Regions from separate parts of the Homo sapiens genome. Here all the other regions are linked to region 1. Evidence: fine-mapped expression QTL. A gene starts in region 1. Each other region holds a variant in brackets. All regions are shown on one strand. Distances are from middle to middle.

Region 1 (6,057 bases):
CTACCTCACATGGCCCTACTGTCTCCCACATTGTCACCAGCTTCAGCCAGTGTCCTTTAGCCTGTGGGCAGGTCCACATTTGCACACCTTCTAAGTGGTCCCGGCCACAAGGACATAGGGGCTTGTTGGACATGCCCTTGAGGGGGTCCCAGGGACACAGATGTAACTTTCCCAGCAGGCAGTCCTGGAACCAGGAAGAGGATGGCTCCCTGGAGAGGAGCGATGACAGCTTTGCAGTGCTGGGGCCGGGGAAGGGCCAGTGAGGGGGTGGTGGAGAAGGCACAGTGGGTGGTGAAGGTTGGGTCATTTGGTCATGAGTCACTCTTTCTATAGCAGAGAAATGACACGGACCTCAAGCCAAAATCTGGGCTTGAGTTGGATTTGTTCCTTGTGAGTGTGAGAATCTGGTCCTGTTCTGGAGGCTGTCTGCTCTTGGGTTCCTTCACTTACCATTTAGGAACAAAAGCACTGACATTTCATAATTTTTTGAGGATTAAACCAAATGGGATTCATGGAATAACATATGGTTACACTGCCTCCTCCAACCCAGGAGTGCACATAGGGTGCATGCAGCAAGGTATCCCCATGCAGCCATCCTAGGGGAAGGGTCTTGTCCTGCATCGCTTTCTCTTCATCTGCACTAGCAGTCAATGCATTGCATTCATACGGCATCCAAATCACGCTGAGCGCCCAGCTCTACGAGATAAAAGATGAGGCCCTAGGAAGTGGGGAGACAACGTGAGTCACTGCGTTTGCAGCAGCACAGAAGGTCTGTGTGTCAGGAGTACCATCTCATTTACGTCACATTGAATTTGGCTTACTTTCCATCACTCACACTAGTTGAAGAATGCTGTGCCATTGGTAATCCAAAGGAAAATTTATTTTTATATATTTTCTTTTTCTTTTTTTTCTTTTCTTTTTTTTTTTTTTTTTTTGAGAGATGGAGTCTCGCTCCAGGCTGGAGTGTAGTGGCATGATCCCGGCTCACTGCAACCTCCACTTCCCAGGTTCAAGCAATTCTCCTGCCTCAGCTTCCCAAGTAGCTGGGACCACAGGCATGCACCACCATGTCCAGCTAATTTTTGTATTTTTAGTAGAGATGGTGTTTCACTATATGTTGGCTAGGCTGATTTCAAACTCCTGACCTCAGGTGATCCACCCACCTCAGCCTCCCAAAGTGCTGGAAGCCAACGTGCCAGCCTTTTAGAAATATTTTCTGTTTAGCTTTGGAATGCTTTATGTGATGGAAGGCAGCAGATTCATTCTTCTTTCAATTAAATTGACCCAATATATTGTGTTAGTCATTGTGCTAGGCTTTGAGGGTGCAAAGGCAGTTAAGACACAGACAGAAAATGCAACGAAATGGTGGTGAGCTCCATGAGAGAGGTACAAACAGAGCTAGTTCTGGTTGAGAGGGAAGGAAACTCCTGGGGAGGAGGTAGCATATCAGTCAGGAAGCGTGAGGTTTGCAGCAATAACAAACAACCCTCAGCTCTCGGTGGCTTAACATCCCAAAAGCTGACTGACTCCTCATTCATGCTACATATCCAGTGTGTGTCATTGTAGCCACTTAGGGTCACAGGTCACAGAGTTAAACCTCTCAGAAGAGAGCAGGGCATTGTGCAGTGCCTCCTTATGCTGCTATGTACAAGTGGTGTGTCCTCTCATTGGACATTTTCTTGGTTACCGCTAGCCATACTGCCATACCTAACTTCAGAGAAGAGAGAGTAACACCCTGGCCTGTGCCCAGAAGGCAGAGAGCTAAAAACATTCAATGAACAACACTAAAAAACCCCATCGGTGTCTTCGACCCAATATGCGGAAGGAGTATGAAGGAGAAGAGCTTCCAGGGGATGAAAAGCTTTATGAAAGCTGCCAAGATCAGAACGCCTGGCTGGAGAGAGGGGCTCCAAACAGGAATGCTTGGAGGCACGGTGTTAAGGGAGGACAGGGCAGAGTGTGAAGCTGGGCTAAGGAGGTTGGATTTGATCCGGGAGACACGGAAAGTCATAAAGGAGCTGTGGTTTCAGATTTACCTGACTGCTTTGTGTAGGAGAGATCAGAGGGTGGCAGCCCAGAGGCAGGAGATCTTTCTTAACCAGGCAAAGGGCTCTGAGGACTCGAATAGCGGTCTTCTAATGCGCAGGAATGGAAGGGCTATGCTTGTCAGCAGAGTCTTGATCAGATTTGGAACTAATTGGATATGAGATGTAAGCAGGGTGGAGAATCAAAGATGATTCCAGGATTTGAGCCTGGGAGAATGCTGCCATTAGAATTAGAGAAAACAGTGGAAAATGGGCAAGTCAGGGAAGGAAGATGGGGCTTGTTGATCTCAAAGCAGGGATTTTTATTTTGTTCACTCCTGTTTCCCTGTACCCAGGACAGTGCTTAGCGCCTAGTGTGTGCTTGGTAATGTTCATTGGCTACAGAATACAGTAGAACATAAATGGAGACGTCCCCAGGCGACCGCTAAGGCAGAACTGGCACTCCTTGGTGGTGTCTGTGCTGGGAGGGAGGTCTTCCTGTCTGAAGTCGTAAGATGAGACGTGCTGCCAAGAGAAAAAGCTTAGAGAAGAAAGGGATGAAACTGAAGGGAGAACTTTGGGAATCATGACATTTAGGACTAGAAAGGAGGACCGGAATCCAGGGAAAGGGGGCATTTGAGGAAGCATCAGATGCTGCAAGTGGGCGAGGGGCGTTGGGATGGCTCAGAGGGCATCTGGTGGCACAGCTCATGTCACTGGGCCTCCCCAGGGTAGCCGGGCGCAGGCCAGCAAGCGCCTCCCGCCTGGAGAACAGGAGGCTGCGTAGCCGACGGGGAGCCTGGGCCAGGGGCGGTTCTGGTTTCTGTTTGGTTTTGGGGGGTTCATAAATGCGATTTAGTCCTGTAGCAAAGTGAGCAAGGTGAAGGGGAGAGACCGGAGGCGCATGAGGGAGGAGGGAAAAGATGGTTGGCATCAAGGAGGTGGATAAAGGGCTGCCCTCCCGGGGCAGGGCCCCTGGAGGGCCGGAGGGGTGGTGAACGCCGTCGTGGTGATGGTGAGGGCCTTAGCGACCACCACCCGAGTGAGGCCCCCTCACCTTCAGGCCCAGAGCCGAGGGGAGGAGCCTCCCCCAGGGCCGGCGGGGGCGGGCAGGTGAGCCGGGCAGGTGCGCAGGCGAGCGCGGCGGGCTGGGCGGGCCGAGGCCACACCCTGAAACTACCTGCGTGGGCCGGGCCGGAGTGTGAGAGCGGAGCTGCAGCCGGAGAAAGAGGAAGAGGGAGAGAGAGCGCGCCAGGGCGAGGGCACCGCCGCCGGTCGGGCGCGCTGGGCCTGCCCGGAATCCCGCCGCCTGCGCCCCGCGCCCCGCGCCCTGCGGGCCATGGGAGCCGGCCGCCGGCAGGGACGACGCCTGTGAGACCCGCGAGCGGCCTCGGGGACCATGGGGAGCGATCGGGCCCGCAAGGGCGGAGGGGGCCCGAAGGACTTCGGCGCGGGACTCAAGTACAACTCCCGGCACGAGGTGAGCGCGGGCCGGGGACCCGGGGCGCTGGGAAGCTCCTGCCCGCCCGACCCTGCAGCGCGGCGCTGGGCTCGGCCGGCTCCCCTGGCGTGTCCGTCGGTGGCCGAGCTCTGGGCGCACAGGTGGAATTTCCTGTTCAGCGGGTGCCGGGCCGCGGGCGGGCGGGGCTGGCCGGACCTTTGGTACCGGACCGGCTGCGCCCCGCCAGGGGGAGGCGGGAAGCCCCTGGGCCTTCCTGCGCCCTCGGTCCTTTCTTTCCCTGAGTTGAAAAAAGGGGCTCCGTCTCGGCCCCTCCATGACTCTCGCGCTGTTAGTGAACATCTGGAAGAAACCAGGGGCTTGGAGTGGGGTTATTTGGGAGGAAGTGAAATTTCAGGAGGGTTTGGAGTCTCAGCCATCCTTGGCCTCTGCAGAAAGTTTCTTTCGTCTCTCTCCTTCCCCGTCAAAAGGCGCTTTGGGACCTCGCAGAGGACAACTGGGAGGCCAGGGCTTTGGCTGCCATACGGGCTGGAGCTAAGAACTCCAGAGTTGGGCTTGCCTGGGCTTCTCGAGAGGGGATGGAGCCCTTTGGGAAGGCGGCTGTATGGGAAGGGATGTGGGAACACACATGTCTTGAGCCTTTTGCGAAGTACCGAAACAGGAAGCTCTTCTTTGGCAGAAAGAACAATGAAAGACCTATTGAAAGATCTCAAAAAGATTACATGTTCCTGTATGGAGTTGGGGATGGGTCGCTAGTCACTTCATTGACGGACCCACCTAGGTGGTAGTGCCCGGGCGGGACCAGCAGCCAGGTCTCTACCCTCTCTGTCCAAGGCAGACCCCCAGGTTTCCTGGAAGGCCAGGGCATACCAGGTCAGGGCGGCGCTGAGAGGCAGGGGCTGTGTGGCAGAGAGTTTTGCTCCTCTGCAAATGATGGCCTCCCTGCCCTGCCAACCCTCACTTTCTCCCCTCCTTCCGGGTGCCCCTGGGCTCCATAGTCTCCGCCGTTGCTCCCTAAGTCAGGCCTGATTTTGGTGCTGTCTCAGATCAATTCCTTTTGTCCAAGCAGCATCCCGACCTAGGGAGCTTGCAGAAAATCAGACGCTGGGGCTTTGGAGGCTGCCTGCACCACAGACAGGACCTGGGGCTGGGCTCTGCTATTTTCTCCACTTTTCACCCTCAGCAAGGAGGAAAGCTTCCAGTGGACCTGAAGGCTTGGGCCCTTCCCCTGGCTGTGCCTGTGCCCTGCTGTGAGGCAGATTCACCTTCTCTTCCTTGCTGTAATTGCTATGTTTGTGTCCTTGCTAATTGCCTACTTGGGGTTCTAGACTCCCTGCCTCTTCAGCAGAGAACCTGCTGTTTGGAATTTGTTATTTCAGGGCAGTCCGGTGCCCCCACCCCAAGTTTGTTCTCCCTGACTTCCCTTTCTAGGACTCTCCTGCCCACACGGGGAAAGCAGGGTCTTCCTGGTCGTGTGGTCCAGCCTCCTCTCTGAGCCATCTCACCACCTGACAAGCAGCCAGGCTGGGGCTCACCTTCCACTCACCCCCAGGATCCCACATTCAGCGGACTTGTCTTGTCACCTGCAAGCCCTGGCTTTAGTTTCCCCCATCCCTGCTCATTTCCTCCTCCTCTGCGAAGCTCATTTGCTCTCTGCGCCCTTGGGCTGTTCCTTCCCCCTCTGCCATTTTCATTCTCTTGGCTTGCTCTTTGTCTTTTCTCCTGCCGAGCTTTATTGAACTAACTCAGTACCTAGTCCCATGGGTGAAGGGAAGGCTCTCAGAGACCAGTAAGATGTGGTTGTTTCCTTTAAAGAACATCCAGTCTTGAGAGCGAAACTAAGAGACGAATGCCAAAGTTAGCTGTGAGGCGGAGTGTCCAGAGGAAATTGGCCAAAGCTCATTTCCATGTCTTGCAGATTCCTCCCATCCCTGGCCTCACCAGAAATCCCAGTCCCTGGGATCACCCTGTAGTGTGTGTTTGCAGCTAGGATGTCCATCCCCGGCCGGGAGGTGTGGCTGCTGCCCCTGGGTTTATTATCTGGGTCAGCAGAGCCTGGCCCACAGGGTGCTGTTGTTTCTGGGTTCCTTGTCCCCAGTTGCATCCATCCGTGCACCCTTGTTTGGTGGTATTTGTATCTGGCTGTCCCCTTCCCAAGGCTGGTGGTGTGGCCCCTGCCCCACCCCTGCTGTTCCCATCAAGTGTTCTGCGTGGCCTTCAGAGTCCTGATGCACGTTACTGCATCTGGGGATGGTGTGAGCCCTGCCTGCAAGCAAGCAGGGAAACAGATGCCACTTCTTATGGCCATTAATGAGAGCCAGGGAGCCTGCCTCCCTGAGGGTCTTGATTCCTGTTGAGTATTTGATGGTGAATATGAAGCTGCCTTGACATCCACTGGTTCCTTTTCCGATCACAATTGCCCTAGGTAAGACTCAGCATCCCTTAGGCATCCAGAGACCAAGTTTGGAAAAATCGGATGTTGTGTGGCCAAAATCAGATGTCTAGGGGCCAGGGTGTACACCTCTGGCTATTCAGAGGGTCACCTGCTTGTTAATTTGTCAACCATTCAGGCAT
Region 2 (6,057 bases), 390 kb after region 1:
AATTCTCCCTGGGGAATGGAGGAGAAGGGGAGGCTGGAGAGAGAGGGATGTGGCACGTCTTTCAGACGTGACTCTGGGGTCAGCCATAAACTGGTTCCATCATCATCACCAGGGAGCTTAAGAATTTAGCTCAAAGAGTCTGATTTTCTGGGTTGGGTTAGAATCCAGGAAACTGTTTTAAAATGAGTCCCCTCCCCAAATTCCCAGGTGAGGCTGATTAACATCCGGATTTATGAAGTCATTGGCTGGGGGTCTGTGTCCTACAGCCTCTGGGCCCAATCCAGCCTGGAGCCTGTTTTTTATTTTATTTTTTAACTTTATAAACTTTTTTTTTGTCTTTATGTGCAGTCTTTATTTCAACTATTTATTTTTTCTTTTTTTTGAGATGGAGTCTCACTCTGTCGCCAGGCTGGAGTGCAGTGGCGTGATATCGGCTCAGTGCAACCTCCGCCTCCCAGGCTCAAGCGATTCTCCTGCCTCAGCCTCCCGAGTAGCTGGGACTACAGGTGCCCGCCACCACACCCAGCTAATTTTTGTATTTTTAGTAGAGATGGGGTTTCACCATGTTGGCCATGATGGTCTCAAACTCTTGACCTCATGATCCACCTGCCTTGGCCTCCCAAAGTGCTGGATTACAGGTGTGAACCACTGCACCCGGCCTCAAATATTTCTTAAAACACTGTAGTTATTTCTTAGGACAAGAGCAAAGATCACCCCCTGCAGAAACTCAGTAACTATATACAGAGCTTTGCAGAACAGAGACAGTCACTAAAGGCTGGCTGCTGGCCAGGGAATGGCATTCTGACTGGACTCAAGGAACAAAAAGAAACCAGGTTGGAAAGGGGCAAGCGCTCAGCTGAATTAAACTTCAGCTTCCATCAGGGCATATCTTGTGATGCTCACAGGCTCTGTTTCTAGAAGGTTTGGGTTCAGCACAAGATTCCATTTGTCTGCTTGGCTACACCCCCAGCTGAAGTGCCAAGAGGTCACTGTCACTCATGTTCCTGGCCAGCCAAACTCCTGAAGCAAAGAGTCCCGAATTGAGGATTAAGTATCTCTGGAAATCATTCCTATCAGTGGCAAAGCCATAGCTGCCATGAAGCCAATTTCCCACATTGCCCAGATTTTGGGTGATACATTTGCTGAGCTGGCAGTGCTCACAGTGACCACTGGAAGCCATAGTAGTGCTTTTGGGCTCTGCCAACTTTAAAAAGTGGATACATAATATTTACACAAATTTGTGGGGTACATGTAATATTTTGATACATACATTGAATGTGTAATGATCAAATCAGGGTATTTAAGGTATCTGTCACCTCGAACGTTTATCATTTCCTTGTTTGGGGAACACTTCATATCCTCTCTTCTAGCTATTTTGAAATACACAATATGTTGTTGCTAACTGCACTCACCCTATTGCGCTATTGAAAACTAGAACTTGTTCCTTCTTTATATTTGAGACAGGGTCTCACTCAGTCACCCAGTCTGGAGTGCAGTGGTGCAATCATAGCTCACTGCAACCTCAAACTAAATCCCTGGGTTCAAGGATTCTCCCACCTTAGCCTCCCGAGTAGCTAGGACTGCAGACCTGTGCGGCTAGTTTTTTTCTTTTTTTTAAATTTTCTGTAGAGATAAGATCTTGCTATGTTGTCCAGGCTGGTCTCGAACTCCTGGACTCAAATGATCTTCCCACTTTGGTCTCCCAAAGTGCTGGAGTTAGAGGTGTGAGCCACCGCGCCTGGACAGAACTTATTTCTTCTCTCTAACTGTATGTTTGTGTCCATTAACAGTCCTGTCTTTATCCCCCTATAAGTAGCTTACAGCTAAGAATGTTTTTTACATTTTTTTCTCCTTTTTTTTTTTGATGGGATTGCACAGTTTATTTCCAAACACTCAGAGGATAGGGAGTGGCCTGTGGGCTCCTTCTGCCTCCCCTCCCTGCATTTGGCTGAATCAAGAACTTCTCCCCCTTCACCCCCAACACCCTAGGCTGTGCCCGATAGAGAAGGTACTCTCACCCCCACACTGAGGAGAGACCCAGAAAGGTGAGGAGCATGGAGGGTCGGGGGACAGAGTTCAGGTATTCACAGTTCCCTATCTCCACCCCTGGATTACACTGTGCCAGAGCCATGAGGGAGGATCCCACCTCTGGGATTCCTGTGGTGTTGATAGTCCTTCTCCCACTTAGAACCTTCCAGATGAACTCCCTACTCCTTATCCCTGAAATAACAAACCAAGCCCTAAACCAAGCCCTGTAGTCTGGGCGGGGAGGGGCCTTAGCGCATCACTCACCCAAGGCCCCCAGGGATGGGGGTGAGGGCCTTCACCTGTAGTGAATGGGTTGGGAGCAAGTATCTATAAGGAGAGAGGAAGGGAGAGAGCTGAGAGGACCTTGGGAGGCAGGCTTGGAGGCTTCTGACACATAAGTTCAGACAGCTCTGGCCTGTTACTCCACGCCGCCCCACACCCCAAGCCCAGAATCCCTGAGAGTCCAACTGCAAAGGCAGTATGGCCGGAGGGAGGAATGGGGGCACGGGGAGAGCTGGGTAGGACCTTGGTCCCCCTCTCCCAGTCAGTCCTGCTCCTGGGACACATGATGCTTAGGGACGGCCAGGACCAGGATCAAGTCC[T/C]AGCTCTTAGGCTCTGATCTTCCAGAATAGCTGAATCCTGGGGCACGTAGTGTAGACCCACCAACCCCCACACCCCAGACATCCCGGCCTTGGGTAGAATGGTGGGAATGGGCTCTCCCAAGGGTATTATAAAAAGCTAAAACCGTTAAACACTTACTGGGGAGGAGTGGCTCCCAGTCTCTTGCTTCCCCAAGTTATCAGCCTCTGCAGCGCCTAGCAGACAAGACTAAGGAGGTCCCAGAGAGCCAAGGGAGGAGGGCACAGCCCCTGGGCCCAGAGAGAGGGCCCACTAGCACCGTGCAATGTTGAGGTGCCTCCGCAGCCTGACTGGCCCCCACGCAGGGGCCCTCCGCAGCGGGGGTGCACACTTGCTAGAGCTTCTGTACTTTTGAAGGGTGACCCCTGCAAGGGAGTGGGGAAGGCAAAGACTTGGCTTAAGTCCAGGCAGGGGTCACAGCTGGGACCCCAAAGGACACCCCTGGGAGTCATGATTTGAAGAATCTTCTTACCACAAACTGGCCCAGCAGAACCACACCCACAACCACCAGCACGTTCAGGATGGGACTATTGCCCAAGTCCAGGGCTGCCACCCAGCCGCCCCTCTGCGAGATCCACCGGGCGATGCCTTGTTGCAGCATGAAGACCACGAAGCGGGTCACCAGGCCCAGGAAGCCAGTCAAGCCGTGCTGGTAGACATGTAGGACCAGACGGTAGCCGAAGCCCAGGAGAGCCACCACACGGCCCCGGTTGATGCCACTCTCAAACAGGCTGGAGGCGATCTTGGTGAAGTACTCGTAGGCGTTCTCTGCCGTGGGCTGCAGGTGCTGCAGCATGGTCTGGAACTCCGAAGTCATAGTGCCGGTTGATGTCGTCCTGGTGATGGCGAGCTGCCGTCCCACCTGCCCCATGGTGCTGCTAGGTTGGAGGGGCAAGGTGACCATCTCTGGGTCGGCAGGGGCGGCCGCCCCTTCAGCCTCCTGTTCCTGCTGATGGTGGTAAAAAACGTAGCTGCGGAAAACCCCTCCATGTCCTGGGCTACCTGCTCCTCAGAAGCAGAGGGCAGGGCAGGCTTTCCGCACTCCTGCCTGGGAGGCCCTGGGCCTTGCCCCGATGCCATTTTTCAGGTCTCAGTGGAGGACAGTGTCAGCCTCCAGGGATGCTGGCTCAACCCGCGTGGGTCAGCAGGGTGGAGTTGAAGGTCCCAAGGGGCTGGAGGCTGCTGCTCCCAGGGGCTGAGTGGGAGCCCAGCTTCCAGGAACGGGCGTCAGTGCATTTCTGGTATCTGGATGTAGCCTTTGCTTGTCCCTGTGTGGCCCGAGGGACCCGTGAGACTCCAGTGATCATCTGTTTTTTTACATTTTTAAAGCATTGTAAACAAAATAATACAAACAGGGAGCAAAAAAGAATACATGACAAAACTGTAAGTGGCCTGCAGAGCCTAACATATTTATCATGCTACTTGGCCCTTTACAGAAAATGTTTGACTATCCCTGGCTTAGATAGGGAAAATTAAATGCATAAATGAATAAATAGATTTTTCAACTGATGAAGAGGTAACGAAGTCTGCAAATTTTCTACCATGGGTCACTCTCCACACAGGCGAGGGAACCTTTGCTCTGAGTGTGGTTCTTATTGGAATGGGACGCACTGTCACTCTTTAAACAATGTATTGTGCCTCAGGTGCTGCAAGGTACTGCTATGCTCACATGGACAAATTAAGGCTCTGGCTAAGGTAAAAATCAAATGGGCTGCCCACTAAAAGGGGTAGTTCAAATTATTTCAACTTCACTTTTGTTCAGCTAGGGAGGGAGAAAGTAGACTAGGCCTTGGAAGGTCAGGGGAAAAAAAAATACCAGTTACACAAACATAAGGCTCTTAAGCAGGCACTTGTTGTCCTGAGATGAAGGTATAAGCAAACTTTTTGAAATATGGCTTAGCAAATGCTGTCTTACTTTTCAGTGTGCAGACCTGGACAACAGGCAGGTGGGGAGGGATCTGTTTGTGAAAGGATCTGATCCCAGAACTCTCTTGAAAAGGAAGGGCGCGGCTGCCACTAGACTAGTTGCTCAGACTCAAGATAGTGGCTGAGATTGTAGGCAAGGGCTGGTGTTTGTGTCATGCGTGCTGCACCTAGCTGTCCTGCTAAGGGATTATGATTTGAGAAGCAATGGTTCGGGGTGGACTGTGACAGAAGATCTGTGACATTGGTGCCCATGTGGTATCCCCCAGCTAATGCCCACTCAGAAATCCATTCTAGCTGCAGGGGCAGATGCTGACTGCAGGGTGTGTCATCAGAGCAGCATCCGTGAAGCTGGTGAGCCATTTGGTCAAGGGCAGGGTGAATTTGGGTTGAGTAAACCCTAGAGTTCCTGGAAAACACATGGACACAATCACCTTAAGAAAGAGACACTAGGCTTTTTCTGCTAGAATGTCATGGGCTTGAACAATTTACTAAAAAACCCAAGGCAATATTTTAACCTGGAGTTTGCATAGCTTGGCTGCACATACTCATTCATTCATTCCTGTACAGATACACAGATGGGGGTTTAGAGAAGTGAAGAAGCTTGGCCAAGTCACACACTGGGTGGAGTGCAGGAATCTAAACCCAGTCTTGTGTGTTTCCAAAGCCTGCTCTCTGTCCACAGTACCCTATTGCCTCTTGTAGAGTCGTAGATTATTAGCGAAGTCTTACAAATTATTCACCATTTTTGAGTGAGAAACTGAGACTCAGAGAAGTGAAACAACTTGTTCAAGGTTGTTTAACTAATTACCAGAATTCCTACAGACCTGCCTCCAGATTCAGCGGGTCTGAGTTGCCATAAGCTTCTAAGAACTTCTTATCAAAGGAACTGAGAATGTCAAATGGAGTGAGTTGAAATCCATAGGGACAAAGAAGCATTGAAGGAAAAGTGAGATTTGCAAAGTGAGCCACATTTTGCTTTTTCCTAACGACCTGTTTGTTGATGTCCTCTTTGAAAGGGCTTCTAGGAGGCAGGAAGGTATGAGCTACTTTTGGCAGTTTGGCCCCAGAGATTACCTGTTTATTTATTTAGCACTTTAGACATTAAGTTGGCTAATATAAAGCAATTCCCCTAAAGTCTGGAGTTCATGGACATAGACCAAGTATAGGGAAAGTAGTCTTCTCCATTCACCTCATGACCCCAAAAGATCATGAGTCTAGGTTGATCCCCAGCCAGTGGCTACATCTGTAACTTGACTACCCTGATTTCTCAATCAGCTCAGCTACAAATGGCAGTGGAAAAGATGCCCAAGAAGGGTCTTGAAATAAATGGAAATCTTTCATTTCCTGTTCTGGTCTCTATCCAAGAAGCTGCCACTGCCCAAGGGAGGCGCCCAAAGCCCAGTGTTCTCTGCAAGTCAGAGTCAGTTTTCAAAGCACTGAAGGTATAGCCCAGGCTTTCTTACA
Region 3 (6,057 bases), 50 kb after region 1:
GTTGGTGATTCTCACATTGTTGATTATTATTGTGGCAGGCGCGAATGTGGTTCCTTATTGTACCGTTTCTTCAGCATTTAGGGGCTGCTCACTCTTTCTTTCTTTCTCTTTCTCTTTTCTTTTCTTTTTTTTTTTCTTTTTTGAGGTGGGGTCTCACTGTGTTGCCCAGGCTGGAGTTCAGTGGTGCGATCTTGGCTCACTGCAACCTCTGCCTCCTGGGTTCAAGCAATTCTCCTGCCTCAGCCTCCTGAGTAGCTGGGATTACAGGCACCGGCCACCACACCTGGCTAATTTTTGTGTTTTTGGTAGAGGCGGGGTTTCACCATGCTGGCCAGGCTGGTCTTGAACTCCTAACCTCAGGCGATCCACCCACCTCGGCCTCCCAAAGTGCTTGGATTACAGGAGTGAGCCACCATGCCCGGCCAGGGGCTGCTTTTTCTCTGTAAAGAATAGCTTTCCTTTTCCCTGTATAAATTCTTTTGAAATTACTTTTTAGACTCAGGGTGGACTGATGGATTACCCCACCCTTTTTTATTATTCCACCTGTGTAGTAGTGTCACCCTGTCACCACTTATTTCGGGGTTCTTATTGTCCTAACTTTAGCCAGCTTTGTGAGGCCGCATTGCTGTTTGAGTGCTCGATCGCTTCCTGCAGAAACAAAATGTTCCAGGTTGCTTTATGCTTCCCATTAAGCCCCAGATCCGAAATCAGCTGTTTTTCCAAGGAGCCCTGGTTCCTTTCAATAGAGAAGGATATTTAGACACTAAGTTCTGGGTGCTGCTGGAGACAGTATTGGTTTTAGGCCAGTTTTTAAGAATTGTGAGCCAGCGGGCACGGTGGCTTATGCCTGTAATTCCAGCACTTTGGGAGGCCAAGGTGGGCTGGTCGTTTGAGGTCAGGAGTTTGAGACCAGCTTGGCTAACATGGCGAAACCCCGTTTCCACTAAAAATACAAAAATTAGCCAGGCGTGGCTGCACATGCCTGTAGTCCCAGCTACTCGGGAGGCTGAGGCAGGAGAATCGCTTGAACCTGGTAGGTGCAGGTTACAGTGAACTGAGATCACACCTCTGTACTCCAGCCTGGGTGACAGAGTGAGACTTCGTCTCAAAAAATAATAATAAAATAAAATAAAAACCATGAACCTTTCCTGATATCTCTGATCTCATTCCACATCTGTGCCTCCCTTTCCCCCCAGTGGGGTGGGCTCCGGCTCTGCAGTGCACGTGGAAAAGCTTCTGAATTGCTAAACCTATTCCATAGCCAGCAACAAACTTAGACACAACACAACATATTTTTCAATTCATTTTGGTCTTAGGTTATATAGCACTACATTAAAAATTTATTTGGGCTGGGCGTGGTGGCTCACGCCTGTAATCCCAGCGCTTTGGGAGGCCGAGGCGGGCGGATCACAAGGTCAGGAGATCGAGACCAGCCTGACCACCATGATGAAATCCCGTCTCTATTAAAAATACAAAAATTAGCTGGGTGTGGTGGTGTGCACTTGTAATCCCAGCTACTCAAGAGGCTGAGGCAGGATAATCGCTTGAACTCGGGAGGTGGAGATTGCAGTGAGCCGAGATCATGCCACCACCGCACTCCAGTCTGGGTGACAGAGCGAGACTCAGTCTCAATAAATAAATAAATAAATAAATTATTTGGATTGATTGTTCTGTTATTCCTCCTGTGAAAGATCAGGTTCGTAAGATAACTAATTTTTGGTCATCAGATTAAAAATGTATTCAAGGAAGGGGGGGTAAAGAGTTCAAGAGGGATTTCATACTGCAGCTGGAGGCACTTAGTAGTTTCTAGCTTAGGGTCAAGACCAAGTAAGAGCCGGCCCCATCGTCTTCTCGTAGCAGCAGCTGTGCCTCATCCATGCGGAATCCTCTGGGAACGCGCGGGGCCGCGAGGCCGTGTGCACAGACCCGAGTGACCGCGCAGTCTCATAGCGGCTCTCCCTACCAGGTACTCAGACCCCACGCAGTGGACGGCCTTCCTGGGCTTGCACGACCAGAGCCAGCGCAGCGCCCCTGGGGTGCAGGAGCGCAGGCTCAAGCGCATCATCTCCCACCCCTTCTTCAATGACTTCACCTTCGACTATGACATCGCGCTGCTGGAGCTGGAGAAACCGGCAGAGTACAGCTCCATGGTGCGGCCCATCTGCCTGCCGGACGCCTCCCATGTCTTCCCTGCCGGCAAGGCCATCTGGGTCACGGGCTGGGGACACACCCAGTATGGAGGTAAGCTTCGGGCTGACCTAGGGCTCCGCAGAGGGCCTGGGGCCTTTCTCCAAGGCCGTGTTTCCTCTGCGTGTCCGGTCTCGGGGCGGGGGGCTGCTCCAGTCTCCCTCTGCCTGGCAGAATGAGGCTGTCCAGGGCGGAATGGAGGCCTTTAGTAAAAGGGGCATGGGATTTGCAGCCTGGGCTCAGGATTGAAGGTTGGCTTTGCCCCTAACTAGCTGAGTGACCTTGAGCGAGTTGCTTAAGCTCTGATCCTGTTTGTGCATGCGCGTAATGAAGATAGCAACACCTTAAGCCCAGTGGTGCTTAAGGCACGTGAGGGGGTGGGTATGAAGGGAAGCAGGCCGTTAGTTGGCAAATGCTAGATTGAAAGAATCCACTGTACAGCATATGCTGAACATTTGTCGTCTTTGGAGAGGAAAGAAAACGAACAGGACTTACAGCTCCAATGCCCTCACAGAACCCCGCGGGCATTTGCGGCGCCTTCCCTCCGCCTCTCTGCTTCTTGTTCCCTCACCCCTGCTTGCCACGGCGTCTGTTCCCTCTCAACTCGCCTGGCAGATCTCAGCATGCCCCTGCTTCCTCTAGGTGGCTGCTATTGCCAGAGCCCACTGAGTAGACGCGGATTACCCGTTTGTCAGCCCCGGGCATCTG[G/C]GCTGTTCCAGAGTTTTCTAGTCCAATGACCCGTGGGGAGCGTCTCGAATGACGCTGCCCTCGAAGCAGCCCGGCTCTCAGCCCCGTCCTGCCCTCTCCCCAGGCACTGGCGCGCTGATCCTGCAAAAGGGTGAGATCCGCGTCATCAACCAGACCACCTGCGAGAACCTCCTGCCGCAGCAGATCACGCCGCGCATGATGTGCGTGGGCTTCCTCAGCGGCGGCGTGGACTCCTGCCAGGTGGCCCCCGGGGCAGGAGGGCGGCAGGTGGGCCCCGGGAGAGGCGGGACTGGGGACTCACGGCAGGGCTTGTCTCCGCCCAGGGTGATTCCGGGGGACCCCTGTCCAGCGTGGAGGCGGATGGGCGGATCTTCCAGGCCGGTGTGGTGAGCTGGGGAGACGGCTGCGCTCAGAGGAACAAGCCAGGCGTGTACACAAGGCTCCCTCTGTTTCGGGACTGGATCAAAGAGAACACTGGGGTATAGGGGCCGGGGCCACCCAAATGTGTACACCTGCGGGGCCACCCATCGTCCACCCCAGTGTGCACGCCTGCAGGCTGGAGACTGGACCGCTGACTGCACCAGCGCCCCCAGAACATACACTGTGAACTCAATCTCCAGGGCTCCAAATCTGCCTAGAAAACCTCTCGCTTCCTCAGCCTCCAAAGTGGAGCTGGGAGGTAGAAGGGGAGGACACTGGTGGTTCTACTGACCCAACTGGGGGCAAAGGTTTGAAGACACAGCCTCCCCCGCCAGCCCCAAGCTGGGCCGAGGCGCGTTTGTGCATATCTGCCTCCCCTGTCTCTAAGGAGCAGCGGGAACGGAGCTTCGGGGCCTCCTCAGTGAAGGTGGTGGGGCTGCCGGATCTGGGCTGTGGGGCCCTTGGGCCACGCTCTTGAGGAAGCCCAGGCTCGGAGGACCCTGGAAAACAGACGGGTCTGAGACTGAAATTGTTTTACCAGCTCCCAGGGTGGACTTCAGTGTGTGTATTTGTGTAAATGAGTAAAACATTTTATTTCTTTTTAGGTAAGTTTCTTTTCCTACTGGAGTTGCGCCCTCCTTCCTCCTTTTTCCTACTCGATTTGCAAGAAATTGGATGTACATTCCCCTCAGCACAGACCCTGGAGTCAGGCTGGGTGGGGCCCACAGTGCCGTTGCCTTCTCTAGGCCAGCAAGGGGCTGGTTTTGCTCTGACCTGTAGCTTCCAAGACCAGGGGCCTGGTGCCCTGGTAGGAGGGAAATGCGGGTTGGCGAGGTGGGGAGACGAATGTTGGGGGGTGCACTGGTGCCCAGGCCTGGGTCCAACCTAGGAGAGGGAGGAGCTTTGTCAGAGGAAGATGGGCGGAAGCGTGGCTTCGTGTTTGGTGGGGAGGTGGCCCTGTGAGCGCACACACTCACGGGGACAGATGTGAGTCTGGGCATGAAGACCTGGCTGTCTCTCTAGTGAAGGCTGAGCAGATGGGTCCCAAGGCCTTGGAGGAGGGGTGCTGCCTGGCTGAAGGGCACCCACACCTCCCGTGCCATCCCCCTTGATTTTTTCTTTTTTCTTTTTTTTTTTTTTTTGAGTCAGGGTCTTGCTCTGTCACCCAGGCTGGAATGCAGTGACATGATCACAGTTCATTGCAGCCTCAGTCTCCTGGGCTCAAGCTATCCTCCTGCCTCAGCCTCCTGAGCAGCTGGGACTAGAGGTGCCCACCACCACACCTGGCTAAGTTGTTTTTTTTTTTTTGTACAGACAGGGTCTCACTATGTTTCCCAGGCTGGTCTCGAACTCCTGGGCTCAAGTCATCTTCCCGTGTTGGGCTCGTGCTGAGCCACCACCCCCAGCCTCCCTAGATTTTTACTTAATAATTTAAAATATTTCCTCTCTTCTTGCTTGGTGGCCTGAAGGGACAATGTCAACAATCTGGGGAAGGCTTAGGGAGCTTTTGGGGGAACATTTGAGGGCTTCTTGTATGCTGATGCGCCACATGGGCTTGGGGCAGGGAAGAGGACCTGGGGAGAGAAATGACATGGCCAGTGTCAGGAGGGCAGAAGGTAGCCTTGGCTCACCGCTATGTCCCCAGCTCAGGCTTGTCTTAGAACATGCTGATATGTGTTTGTTCAATGAATGGTTTTTTGCCTGCCATGAGTTATGGAAACAAAAAGGAGGAAATATAGTCTGATTGGAGCAACACTGCAAGGCTTCTCGGGGGAGGTGGGGTTTGCAGAGCCTCTTTCATTTTAGCCTGAGTGTTTTACCTCTTTGAGGGAGGGAGTGTTGCCTAGAACCTGTGCGAGAATCTGTCGCATTTTCCTCCCTGGGGAGGGAAAGAACATCTGTTCTTACCAAGGCGTGGGAAGTAGAATGAGGATGATGCTGAAGGACTCCTGTGCGTGTTGTAAATGTCATTCCTTTTCTGCCCTGACATGGTCATTCCCACCTGATCGCATCGGACAGAAGTGCCCAGTGCAGGCGCTGAGGGAATGGTCTATGTTAAATGGAGAGGTTTCACGAGGCCTGTGTGTGGTCTGGTTCCTAAGTGTGCGTGAGCCTGGCAGCCGGGGCTTGGCCGGGGTGTAGACATGGTCATCCATGCAGTGGGATTCAGGGAGGCCAGCCCAGCCCGTGCCACTGCACCACCCTCAGCTCCATTGTGGCTTGACAGTGTTCTGGACTGCTCACTCCCCCCGGTCAGATTCCCACCCGGGGAGCAGGTGAAAACACAGATGGCTAGCCTTCAGGGTCATCCCACCCTTTCCGGGACTCTCTGCGGGAGGTCTGAGTGGGACAAGGCGTGTCGTCTGTGGCAGTGTTTCTCTCGGGAGGTCCCTGGGCAGGAATATCGAGATCTCCTGGGACTCATAGGTGCAGAGTCTCATGCTTCATCCAGACCTCCTGAACAGAAACTGGTGGGCCCGCTGGGTGGGGCCAGTGGCCTGTGCTCTAAGAAGCGTTCCTGTGAGGTTGGAGAGCACCGTTTTAGCAGTGGGTCATGCCATTCCAAGTGCCACGGAGCAGCAGCATCACCAGGTGCTCCATCAGATGCCCAGAGCCGCAGTTTGCAGGACATCCTTGGTCCTTGGGGGATCCTGGAAGCCTGCCTGAATGTCGAGAAGCATTTGAGCCCTGGAAAATCAATCATGTGTCAGTGCCTTTAAAAAGATTATGGGGCCAAATCCT
Region 4 (6,057 bases), 34 kb after region 1:
CGGGGGGACGCCGACTCAGTGCTGAGCCTCACCTTCCGCAGCTTTGACCTTGCGTCCTGCGACGAGCGCGGCAGCGACCTGGTGACGGTGTACAACACCCTGAGCCCCATGGAGCCCCACGCCCTGGTGCAGTGAGTACCCCGGGGGGCGGGTAGGGCTGTGGGAGCTTGGCGGCTGCCCTGTAGGGGGCCAGCTTCTTCAACGATTGGGATACAGTTTATGACTCTTGGCCGCAGGCCACTGCTAAACATCCAGGCAGCAGGAGGCACGTGTGGTGTGATCCTCAGCTGCAGCTCCAGGGGAGTCTGGGAGGTGATTTTTCTCAGCCTTGGCAAAGCAGAGGAAGGCTCTATAGTCCCCAGATACCAAATCCAGCCTGTGCGGCCTGTGCCCTGAACCGCCGGAGAGAAGGCACTGCCCACGGTTGTAAAATGTAGGCTTTATTATTCAGGGATATGAAGGCCAACAGATCAGGAGATGACTGCTCTTGAAAAGACAATTTTGTTGGCGGGCACGGTAGCTCATGCCTGTAATCTCAGCGCTTTGGGAGGCTGAGGCGGGAGGATCTCTTGAGGCCAGGAGTTTGAGACTAGCCTGGGCAACAAGACTCTGCCTCTATAAAAAATAAAAAGCTTAGCTGGGTGTGGTGGCGCATGCCTACTCAGGAGGCTGATGCAGGAGGATCTCCAGCCCAGGAGGTCGAGGCTGCAGTGAGCGGTGATTGCACCACTGCACTCCAGCCTGGGCAACAGAGAAAGAACCTGCCTCAGGCCACATGAGGAAACACCAGGTTGGTCAAGGGGTAACAGGAATGAGGGGAAAATGTAAGCAAGAGCCTTTTATGGGCCGGGCATGGTGGCTCACGCCTGTAAGCCCAGCACTTTGGGAGGCCAAGGCGGCTGGATCACTTGCGGTCAGGAGTTTGAGACCAGTCAAGCCAACCTGGTGAAACCCTGTCTCTACTAAAAATACAAAAATCAGCTGGGTGTGGTGGCGGGCGCCTGTAATCCCAGCTACTCGGGAGGCCAAGGCGGGAGAATCACTTGAACCTGGGAGGCAGAGGTTGCAGTGAGCCGAGATCGTACCACTACACTCCAGCCTGGGCAACAGAGCGAGACTCTGTCTCAAAAAAAAAAAAAAAAAAAAAGAGCCTTTATATGGTTTACACAGAAAAGGCAAGACAAATCAGGGTGAGAGGTTTAGAACTGGCTTGTTTGAATAATTTCAGTAGGCTCCGGGGCATAGGAGCTGTCCCTAGTTCTCTGATACTTGGGCCTGGGGTGGTTAGGGCAAAGAATAGTGGCCCTGAGTGTGAGATCCTTTCGGAGGAGGTGGGGCTGGGCCCCCATAGGTGGGTTTGCATAGGGAAGGTTTGCTTGCAGGTGAGTCCTTTCCTATCTCTAAGCATTGGCCAGCCTTCCACAGTCAGCAGGGCCTCAGATGTCAAAGCACCTGCATTACAGAAAACGGAAAGGCGTGGTTAATGCACCTGTGGGATACCCCACGTCAGGGTGGGGCGTACCTCGCAGAGGTGCTGTGCGTGGTGGGTGAGCCGCCTCTCCTGCACTCGCTGGGCCAGAGCCTTCCGTGGCTGTCTAGGGAAATGAGCTCGGCGGACGTTTCCTGATTAATAATGGGCTAAAATTCAGGCCAAGAACAACCTAGAACCATCTGCCGCCACAGCTTCGTAACCAGGACTTCTTTTCCATCTCTCTAATTTATTAATTGTACAACAAAGAAGTACATGTTCCCAGTGGGAGAAGGAAATCGGCAAGCAAAAGGAAGACTAAAGTCACTCGTCATCTTACTGTCTAGAAATAACCACTGTTAATTCTTTTTCTTTGAGATGGAATCTCGCTCTGTCGCCCAGGCTGGAGTGCAGTGGCAAGATCTCGGCTCAC[C/T]GCAACCTCCGCCTCCTGGGTTCATGCGATTCTCCTGCTTCATCCTCTCGAGCAGCTGGGATTACAGGCATGCGCCACAACACTCAGCTAATTTTTTTTGTATTTTTAGTAGAGATGGGGTTTTACCATGTTGGTCAGGCTGGTCTCGAACTCCTGACCTCAGGCAATCTGCCTGCCTTGGCCTCCCAAAGTACTGGGATTACAGGCGTGAGCCACAGCACCCGGCCAAATTTTTGATGTCTATTTTCCCAGCCTTTTTTGCTGTGTGTGTGTTAAGAAATAGGATTATCCCGTGCATTCAGTCTCATTACCTGCTTTAACAAATGAAGTATATTATGATGGTCTTTCCAAATCAGTCACCCTCTCTCTCAGGGTTTTTATAAGGTTGCATTGTTTAGAAGGAGGGGACACAATCAGGATGACATGGTTGTGAGCAGTGTGGACTCTGGAGCTTGAATGCCTGAGTTTAAATTCTAAGCCTGCCACTTATTAACCATGAGATGTTGGGCAAGTTACTGAACATCTCTGTGTCTCAGTTTCCTCACCTCTGAGATAGGGGTAATAGTATCTACTTCATAGAGCTGTTAGGAAGATTATGAGTTAATAGATTTAAAAGCACCGAGAACCATGCCAGGCATGTTTTTTTTTTTGAGTCTCCTTGTCACCCAGGCTGGAGTGCAGTGGCGCAATCATAGCTCACTGTAACCTTGAACTCCTGAGGCTCAAGCAGTTCTCTGGCCTTGCCCCGGAGTAGCTGGGACTGCAGGCAAGCGCCACCATGCCCAGCTAGTTTTTTTGATTATGGAGATGAGGCGTTACCCAGGCTGGTCTGAAACTCCTGGCCTCAAGCAATTCTCCTGCCTTGACCTCCCAACAGGCTGGGATTATAGGCCCGACCTTGGCATGTTCTTAATAAATGTTGATTGTTACTACTGCTGTTGTTCTGATTGAGCCCACAGTTTATTTAATAAATCCTCTGTTGTGGGCATGTATTGTGTCTAGGGTGTTGCTCTTTTTTTTTTTTTCTGACAGTCTCGCTGTGTCGCCCAGGCTGGAGTGCGGTGGTGCGATCTCGGCTCACTGCAACCTCCGCCTCCCGGGTTCCGGTGATTCTCCTGCCTCAGCCTCTGGAGTAGCTGGGATTACAGGCGTGCACCGTGATGCCCAGCTAATTTTTGTATCTTTAGTAGAGATGGGATTTCACCATGTTGGCCAGGCCGGTCTCGAACTCCTGACCTCAGGTGATTCACCCGCCTTGGCCTCCCAAAGTGCTGGGTTTATAGGCGTGAGCCACTGCGCCCGGCTGGGTGTTGCTCTTTGATTGTGACAAAGGTGAACTGTTTATCACTAGCGCCTTCCATCAGTGATTGTGACAAAGGTGAACTGTTTATCACTAGCGCCTTCCATCAGTGATTGTGACAAAGGTGAACTGTTTATCACTAGCGCCTTCCATCAGTGATTGTGACAAAGGTGAACTGTTTATCACTAGCGCCTTCCATCAGTGATTGTGTGGGGGAGGGACTTACTTGAATGAAGGTCTTTTTGACTCCATTCTTGGCCTCTGTGGATGGGACCAGAGTTAGGGGTGGGGTCCTCAGGCACCTCTGCCTGAGAGCCTGGTTTGGGTGTGTGAGAAGCTTGGGTTCTGTCTGCTCTTCCTAATGCCCGCCCTCTGCCCCCACAGGTTGTGTGGCACCTACCCTCCCTCCTACAACCTGACCTTCCACTCCTCCCAGAACGTCCTGCTCATCACACTGATAACCAACACTGAGCGGCGGCATCCCGGCTTTGAGGCCACCTTCTTCCAGCTGCCTAGGATGAGCAGTAAGGAAGGGCAGGGCAGGGCGGGACTGCCCTCGGGCCACAGAGAAGGGGAAGGCCTTAGTGGGGGTGACCTGAGCTTAGGAGGCCACAGGCTAGACCCTGTGGTTGGCGAGCTGGCCTAGGTCAGCAGCAGAGGCTGAAGCTTGAGCCAAAGGCATCTGGCCGACCGCCTGGGTCAGGAGCCCTCCTGAAGCTTCGGCACCCGGCACCTGGCCTTCCTGGCTGTGCACCTGCTGTGCAGCATCCACGCGTCCAGGAGGCAGCTCCAGGCCTCAGGCTGCAGAGCCCTCGTCCGCCTGCTCGGCCGGGCAGGTTCCTGATCCTCTTGCTTTCTCCCACCTTCCCTCTCAGGCTGTGGAGGCCGCTTACGTAAAGCCCAGGGGACATTCAACAGCCCCTACTACCCAGGCCACTACCCACCCAACATTGACTGCACATGGAACATTGAGGTAGGAGCTATGGGGCGTGTGAACGTGTGTGTGTGTGAGCATGTATGTGCACGTGTGTGTGTCTCCCTGTGCAGATGTGTGTGGATGTGTGTGCATGTGTTTGCATATGTGTGCATGTGTGTGTGTGTGTGTGTGTGTGCGTATGTGTGTGTGTGAGACAGAGGTGGATGGCAAATGAGGAAGACAGAAGAAAAGGAAGAGGAGATCCTTTATCAACCCCAAAGAGGCAGCCAGATGTCGTGACTCACACCTGTAATCTCAGCACTTTGGGAGACCAAGGCAGGAGGATCACTTGAGGCCAGGAATTCAAGACCAGCCTGTGTAACATAGTGAGACCTCATCTCTACAAAACACTACAAAAATTAGCCAGGCAGGTGATACATGCCTGTAGTCCCAGCTACTCAGGAGGCCGAGGTGGGAGGATCACTTAAACCCAGGAGTTTAAGGCTACAGTAAACTATGACAGTGCCATCGCACTCCAGCCTGGGCAACAGTGAGACCCTGTCTCAAAAAACAACAAAAACAAATAAACAAACCCCAAAGAGACCATGTGTCTTAGGGCCCAGGGTGGGGTCAGGTCTTCCTGCAGTGTCAGGCAGACCCAGACTCTTATCTTAGCTCCTTGTCAGGTGATGGAACGACCTGGGCAGTTGCTGAAGCTCCCTGGGCCTCAGCTTGCCCCTAGGTGAAGTGAGGGTGATAGTGCCTGGGTCTCAGAGGCGCCGTCAGGAAGAAATCAAAGAAGGTGTGTGAGACAAGAGAGTCGCCTGTCCGTGCCGCTCACGCCATCCCAGCCAGAGCTGCCTCCCTTTCCTTTCTTTAAAAATGCCAGGAGGGCCGGGCGCAGTGGCTCACGCCTGTAATCCCAGAACTTTGGGAGGCCAAGGCAGGTGGATCACGAGGTCAGGAGTTCGAGACCAGCCTGGGCAACATTGTGAAACCCTGTCTCTACTAAAAATACAAAAATTAGCCGGGTGTGATGGCGGGCACCTGTAATCCCAGCTGCTCGGGAGACTGAGGCAGGAAAGTAGCTTGAACCCGGGAGTCGGAGGTTGTGGTGAGCTGAGATCTTGCCACTGTACTCCAGTCTGGGTGACAGAGTGAGACTTTGTCTCAAAAAAAAAAAAAAAGAAAAGAGGCTGGGTGTGGTGGCTCGTGCCTGTAATCCCAGCACTTTGGGAGGCCGAGGCGGGCAGATCACCTGAGGTCAGGAGTTTGAGACCAGCCTGACCAACATGGTGAAACCCCATCTCTACTAAAAATACAAAAAAAATTATCTGGGTGTTGTGGCTTGTGACTGTAATCCCAGCTGCTCAGGAGGATGAGGCAGAAGAATGGCGTGAACCCGGGAGGCGGAGGTTGCGGTGAGCTGAGATCTTGCCACTGCACTCCAGCCTGGGCGACAGAGCAAGACTCCATCTCAAAAAACAAACAAACAAACAAACAAACAAACAAACACGCTGGGAGAACTTTGCAACCTGTCTTGGTGATGGAAGGCATACCATCTCTCCCTGGTCCATGCCGCTGCCTCCCTTTGACGTCCTCAGGTTCAGGGAGGAGGGAGGGGAACTGCACATTCCCAGCAGCCTCTCTTCCCTCAGGTGCCCAACAACCAGCATGTGAAGGTGCGCTTCAAATTCTTCTACCTGCTGGAGCCCGGCGTGCCTGCGGGCACCTGCCCCAAGGACTACGTGGAGATCAACGGGGAGAAGTGAGTCCCCGGGGGTATGGGGGCTGCCGGGCCCATGCTGCAGGGGGAGGGGTCCCACCAGACCCCCAGCCCCCCGGCTCCCAGCTGTCCCTCCTCACCTTGTGCCCCGCCCCCCCTCCAGATACTGCGGAGAGAGGTCCCAGTTCGTCGTCACCAGCAACAGCAACAAGAT

The links. PIP is the estimated chance that this variant, and not a neighbour inherited with it, causes the effect.
Region 2: its variant is the best candidate, but not a certain one, in a credible set for the expression of ST14 in B cells (Schmiedel 2018, PIP 0.59).
Region 3: its variant is the best candidate, but not a certain one, in a credible set for the expression of ST14 in cerebellar hemisphere (GTEx, PIP 0.88).
Region 4: its variant is the best candidate, but not a certain one, in a credible set for the expression of ST14 in nasal epithelium (TOPMed, PIP 0.87).

What each region holds. Positions count from the first base shown.
Region 1 is chr11:130,156,557-130,162,613 of GRCh38, forward strand. ST14 (ST14 transmembrane serine protease matriptase) reads left to right here and starts at 3,226. Exons shown (of 19, transcript NM_021978.4): 1 at 3,226-3,504. The coding sequence starts at 3,424. RefSeq lists silencers at 3,105-3,224, 3,305-3,374 and an enhancer at 4,462-4,961.
Region 2 is chr11:130,543,681-130,549,737 of GRCh38, forward strand. It overlaps the pseudogene BAK1P2. Among named protein-coding and RNA genes, the nearest start is that of ADAMTS15, 98 kb to the left of the region's middle. The variant T/C (reference allele first, on the strand shown) is at 2,631.
Region 3 is chr11:130,206,444-130,212,500 of GRCh38, forward strand. ST14 (ST14 transmembrane serine protease matriptase) reads left to right here. Exons shown (of 19, transcript NM_021978.4): 17 at 1,967-2,241; 18 at 2,999-3,135; 19 at 3,219-3,919. The coding sequence ends at 3,380. Among named protein-coding and RNA genes, the nearest start is that of ST14, 50 kb to the left of the region's middle. RefSeq lists an enhancer at 3,167-3,666. The variant G/C (reference allele first, on the strand shown) is at 2,896.
Region 4 is chr11:130,190,564-130,196,620 of GRCh38, forward strand. It overlaps ST14 (ST14 transmembrane serine protease matriptase), which reads left to right. Exons shown (of 19, transcript NM_021978.4): 7 at 1-131; 8 at 3,586-3,725; 9 at 4,077-4,174; 10 at 5,776-5,885; 11 at 6,007-6,057. Among named protein-coding and RNA genes, the nearest start is that of ST14, 34 kb to the left of the region's middle. The variant C/T (reference allele first, on the strand shown) is at 1,902.